Homo sapiens: one gene and its partner. The protein of the gene in region 2 interacts with the protein of the main gene of each other region in a pairwise test. Each region holds a gene or a part of one and is shown on either strand. Other genes may lie near its edges.

The links.
Region 1: the proteins of SLC35F2 (region 2) and TRIM59 interact in a two-hybrid assay, tested with the Homo sapiens proteins (one large-scale study listed by BioGRID).

Annotation. Positions count from the first base shown.
Region 1 is NC_000003.12:160,435,003-160,437,394, reverse strand, and holds the end of TRIM59 (tripartite motif-containing protein 59), read left to right. Parts: 3' UTR 1-1,892; downstream 1,893-2,392. UniProt on the Homo sapiens protein: E3 ubiquitin ligase involved in different processes such as development and immune response. Serves as a negative regulator for innate immune signaling pathways by suppressing RLR-induced activation of IRF3/7 and NF-kappa-B via interaction with adapter ECSIT.
Region 2 is NC_000011.10:107,810,078-107,814,110, forward strand, and holds part of SLC35F2 (solute carrier family 35 member F2), read right to left. Parts: intron 1,718-4,033; coding exon 1,590-1,717; intron 1-1,589.

The DNA of each region.
Region 1 (2,392 bases), on a different chromosome or scaffold from region 2:
GATAACTGTTAGAGTAAAGTGGCTTTTTAAAAGAAATTTTTGAGACTGGGTCTCACCTTGTTGCCCAGGCTGGAGTGTAGTTGTCTGGTCATGACTCACTGCAGTTTCGACCACCCAGGCTCAATCGATCCTCCCGCCTCTGCCTCTGGAGCAGCTGGGACAAGGCACACACCCCCATGCCTGGCTAATTAAAAAAATTGTTTTTTGTAGAAACGAGGTTTTGCCATATTGCCCAGGTTGGTCTCAAACTTCTGGGCTCAAGAGATCTGCCCACCTTGGCCTCCCAAAGTGCTGGGATTACAGACGTTAGCCACACTGTGCCTGGGGGCCAGCATTTTCTAATACTTGTCATATTCTATAGTTTGTGCAAATTTAAGATTGTTTTTTTTTCTGCTCGTCAGTCAAATCAGTTCTTGGATTAAAAACTCATTCTTATTAGAACAGAATCATGTTGGTAACTTGGTCTGCAACAGGTTTTGATGGCATCATGTGGACTTTATTCATCTTAACTCATTTAAATTTTCTACCACATTCCCTTAAGCTAATGCAAAAGTACCAACAACTTAATCTTTTTTTTTTTTTTTTTTTTTTTTTTTTGAGACGGAGTCTTGCTCTGTCGCCCAGGCTGGAGTGCAGTGGCGTGATCTCGGCTCATTGCAAGCCCCGCCTCCCGGGTTCACACCATTCTCCTGCCTCAGCCTCCCGAGTAGCTGGGACTACAGGCATCTGCTACCACGCCCAGCTAATTTTCTGTATTTTTAGTAGAGATGGGGTTTCACTGTGTTAGCCAGGATGGTCTCTATCTCCTGACCTCATGATCCACTCGCCTCAGCCTCCCAAAATGCTGGGATTATAGGCGTGAGCCGCCACGCCCGGCCCAACAACTTAATCTTTTATTAGCTTTGCTTAAGAGGGCCAATTAAATCAAAGCCCTTTAGTTCCCTTTAACAGGGACTGGAGTTATGATGCATGTGTTACGACTTTTGGCCCACTGTCCATGCAACTCTAAGTGCAGGTTGATTTGCTTTCCAGAAATCCCAAAGGGGCTGCTCTTGGATCACCGAAGAGCCTTACCTATATCAAATCAAAAAGACATTCTGGGTCAGATTAGACTATGCTCCTGGCCCTACAGATTGCACATAAACTATCATAAATACAGCTTTTTCAGGGAACTAGTTCTAAAACTCTTACCTGCTGAGAATAAGTCTTAACACTAAGATGACTGTATTATATCAATTTATTATTAGAATCAGACTTATACCTAGCACAATTAACTATTGTGTGGGCAAAGAACATTTAAAGGGCATAGTAGAGGTAAGGAGAGACACATACTCAGCTAGAGATAAAAATACTAAGTTGCACTGATTACTTAAAATACTAGTCACACCATAAAAGTGCCCTGTAGTTTCAAAAACACGTAAGCAATGAAATGTTAGCCATTATGTGTTAAACTACTTAATCTCATTTCTGTGATGTGAATATTTTTAACCCCCTTTTTGTAGATGAGGGAACTGACAAGTGACTTGTCCAAGGCCATATAGCTGTGAGAAAACCCATGCATTCTCTTTTCAGAGTTCATGCTATCACTCAACTTTAAAGTAGGCCAAGATTAATGTTGGTAAGGGTTTGTAATCTGTAAGAATGCTAAAAACGTAAGTATATATATCATTTTAGATTTGACATTTTGTATCTTGCCAGTTTTTAGGAGAACTTTTCATTTTGTTAAGTATGCATGAATATAGTTGAGTATATGAGTAACTGGTTCTTATGCTGCTGTTTTGTATTTTTACCAGCAGGAAGATTGCAAAAGTTGATGTATGTAAATCTTGAAATATTTCTAAGTTTTATGTATAACAAAATATGTATTTTAATAAACTTCTTTTGATATTTTATTTGCACTGTCTTAATGAGACTTCCATACTCAGGAGTGGTAGCTATGGGATTTTCACATGGGTTCTGGGTACTTCTAATTCTTTGAAACTTAGTACTGCAGGCTGGGTGCAGTGGCTCATGCCTATAGTCCAGCACTTTGGGAGGCTGAGGCAGGCAGATCACTTGAGGCCAGGAGTTTGAGACCAGCTTGGCCAACATGGCAAAACCCTGTCTACCAAAAACACAAAAATTAGCTGGGCACTGTGGTGTGCACCTGTAGTCCCAGCTACTCATGTGGCTGAGGCACTTGAATCGCTTGAACCCGTGAGGCAGGGTTGCAGTGAGCCAAGATCTTGCCACAGCACTCCACCCTGGGTGATGCAGTGAGACTTTCAAAAAAAAAAAAAAAATCTGAGCTCTACTGCATTGGTTATTAAAATATAATAAAAGTATTAAATTCTATTTTCGCACCAAATGAAAACACTTGATTATCATTATAGCACTTTAAACTTACTTTTCC
Region 2 (4,033 bases):
ATCCTTTTGGACTACCCAGGCCAGAGATTTACTCAGTTGGAGAACCAGCTTGAATCATTCCTATCACAGCTGTCGCTGCTGCTGGAGAAAACATTACCTTGTTAGATGCCTTTTTTATAATATATTCTTTGCTAGGACCGTAAGTGCATGACTTTTGGCAACCAAATGCTTAGGTTTTTCTAAGAGGCTAGCGTGAAAGAAATTGTTTTCAATTTCTTTGAAATTGAAAGAAGGCATGAACTTCAGTCGCAACTATCCAACTGTAAGTGTTCTGTTTAACTGTGTTTAGGCCTTGCACCAATTCAAAACTTTTTATCATTAGTTAGAGATCAAAGTTCCTGGGAATTGTAATCAAGTAATTAAAATGTAGGTGAGATTATGAGAGTAGATGTGACAAGAAAATACCATTTTCTACATACTTATGTATACTTCATTAACCAACGCTAAAAGTACACTTACTCCTATTAGTGATAAACTTCATTCTCTAGGTAACTGCTGGGTTTAATTTTTACGAAACTTTAGGTTCTTTTTGTGCCTCCTATAGTGTCTGTCTTAATAAATCATTTCCTATCTCAGCTTTTTAACCCATACTGGTCAAAATCCAAGAGGTTTCCTGAGAACAATGCTTAGCACAATGTTACAGAAAAGAAAGTAGTTAATATAATGGTAGTAACATTTAATGTAGGTTCACACTGGAAAAATACTGAGTTCTCATCAATCCTTATATTTTCTATGCGAAATAAGTCTAATTTCAATTTTTCCAGTCCCTAAAATTTGGAGTCAAGTAAGAACATCTCTGTATTTTGTATAGTGAGAAAGGGACATATCAAAAAGTTATAAACTTCAAATCCCACATCTGATACACACTTTTTTTTATTATTTAAAAAAATGAAAAAAAAGTTATAAACAAACTGTGACATCTAAACCTGGCATTTGAGTCTATCTCACTTTCACCTCCACTTATAAAACATTTTGTAGTCAGTAATGGTGAGTCAGTGTTAGGAAACATCCCATAGTTTGCTAACATTAAGACAACTGAAATCAGTTGTCTTCAACTTTACAAAGTTGAAAACCTCTGCAATGTAGGAATATTTTTCTTTCAATGCAGCAAGAATAAACCTAACAAAGAAATAGGGATGGGAGTTTTAACTCTGGCTACCACCTCTCCCAAAAATGTCTACTGGGTTTCTTCCAATGGTTTCTTTGTCATGAATATCTACTATGCTTGCAAAGCTTCAACTTTCCTATAGAACAAAGGTATACTTTCATATGCCATGTTTGAGCAGCATATAAAACAGAACACGTGTCAACACCACAGCATCAACTGCCAACTAAATATTTATGCTTATTTGGTAGGAACTGTTCTAATCTGCCATAGCAGTTTGGGGGCAGCTTAAGTTGTATACATTTTCACTAATTCTAGGAAACATTACTCATTAGAGCATATGCTCTACTAGAAAACAGCATCCACCTGTGTTTAGGTTTTCTTCAAGTGAATAGATTTTCAATAAAATTAGGTCAACACATATGACTTCGTGTTCTTCTTTTGAAGCTATAAAATCCAAAGTGGTCAGAGGGCTCCCTCTTACCTGGACACTGGTTAGAGTTGTGTACTGGTAGGCTCTGACGATCACATAATTAGCTTCCACATCTGCTAGTCCCAGCAGGATGTACTTCCACCATTTTCTTTTCAAGATTACTAAAAGGTTATCACTGCCTGGTTGAAAGAAATATGGGTTAGTACATGTTACTTGCAAATGATACCATACATGTTGATTTGAAGATAAAAGAGTAGAAGCAAGAGTTTCTTGTTTTTTTTTCTTTTTTCTTCTTCTTCTTTTTGAGATAGGGTCTCATTCTGTTGCCCAGGTTGGAGTGCAGTGGCACAATCTCGGCTCACTGCAACCTCTGCCTCCTGGGTTCAAGCCATCCTCCCACCTCAGCCTCCTGAGTAGCTGGGACCACAGGCGTACGCCACCATACCCACCTAATTATTTTTGTATTTTTAGCAGAGATGGGGGTCTCACCATGTTGCCCAGGCTGGTCTTGAACTCCTGAGCTCAAGTGATCTGCCTGCCTCAGCTTCCCAAAGTGCTGGGATTTCAGGCGTGAGCTACCACGCCTGGCTATTGTGTATTTCTAATGTGGCCCCCTCCTAGTTTCCATTCTTCATAACCCAAACTCCTGCAACAGCTCACCAGAGTTAGATTTTTTTCTAGCATGAAACCCTAGTTAAAGTATCATCAGAGACCAAGTGTTCAATAAAAGCACCAGAATGAAAGTAAGAGAAAAGTGGTTAAATTCCCTTTCCCAAATGGGCACAGTGGTGTGCACCTGTAATCCCAGCTACTCAGGAGGTTGAGGTGAGGGCAGAGGACAGCTGGAGCCCAGGATTTCAAGACCAGCTGGGCTTACATAATGAGACTCCACCTCTTTAAGAAAAAAAAGAGGGAGGGCAGGGCGGGAGAAGAGCATTAAGGAAAAGAGCTAATACATGCTGGACTTAATACTTAGGTGATGGGTTGATAGCTGCAGCAAACCACCATGGCACGTTTATCTATGTAACAAACCTGCACATTCTGCACATGTATGCTGGAACTTAAAAAAATAAAATAGTTTTTTTTTAAAATCCCTTTCCTATCATAACAGAAACAAAATTTCTGGATATGAGCTTGTATGTCGCCACTTCTGACAAGCCACGGACTATCCTAGGAAATGAAATGTTTTCCTAGAAATTAATTGGTTATTTAACTTCTATTCATGGGCTTCTTCAAAGAAAAGTCTGCAGGTGATCATTCTTTTGGAAGAGGTGTGCTTTCAAGTGAAAATTAAGTCCTCGATAAGCTTGAGAAAAGGCTTAGTGCACACTGAAGAAACACCTTTTATTCCTCCAAATTATATGTATTCAAATTAATTGGATTCACTACTTTGGAGAATCTGTCATCACAGGAGATGCAGAGTTGGCACATATATGAGAAGGTTTTATGGCAAGATAACTCACAAATAAATAAAAGTAGTGAGAATCATAACCAAATAATTATCAGTAAAATCCAGTTAGCAGGAACATCTTGAAAACACAGAATTAGGCCGGGTGCGGTGGCTCACACCTGTAATCCCAGCACATTGGGAGGCTGAGGTGGGCAGATCACCTGAGGTCAGGAGTTCGAGACCAGCCTGGTCAACATGGAGAAACCCCATCTCTATTAAAAATACAAAAATTAGCTGGGCGTGGTGGCAGGTGCCTGTAATTCCAGCTACTAGGGAGGCTGAGGCAAGAAAATCGCTTGAACCCAGGAGGCAGAGGTTGCACTGAGCCGAGATTGTGCCATTGACCTGAAATCGTGCCACTGCATTCCAGCCTGGGCAACAAGAGCGAAACTCCGTCTCAGAAGAAAAACAAAAAACAAAACAAAAACACAGAATTAGTCTTCCTCAGCATCAAATGGCATAGGAAGCACCTAACAACCATCCCTTAGGGAGACTAACTGCACTGATACATTTGGGAGTCTCACCAAATTCCTGAAGGCCAATGCTTCCACAAAGAGCAAAGTCCAGGGTTATTAACCATGTACAGTTCCACTCCCAACTCTTCTTTTTTTTCCTTTGGAGACAGGGTCTTGGTCTGTCATTTGGGCTTGACAGCAGTGGTGTGATCTTGGCTCACTGCAACCTCAGCCTCTTGGGATCAAGCCATCCTCCACCTCAGCCTCCCAAGTAGCTGGGACTACAGGGACATGCCATCATGCCCAGCTAATTTTTGTATTTTTTGTAGAGAAGGAGTTTCATCGTGTTGCCCAGGCTTGTCTTGAACTCCTGGCCTCAGGTGATCCTCCCACCTTGACCTCCCTAAGTGCTGGGGTTACAGGTGTGAGCCATCACACCCAGCCCTAAATTTCAATAAAGACTTTTAGATAGCTGGTGCATGGGATGAAATAAATTACTCTAATTTCCTAAGTGTGCACAGTGCTGTCCTTGTTCACTGGATTCACTAACCTTTGCAAGGCTTTTTCTTCTGCTATGTCAGCCACACGAT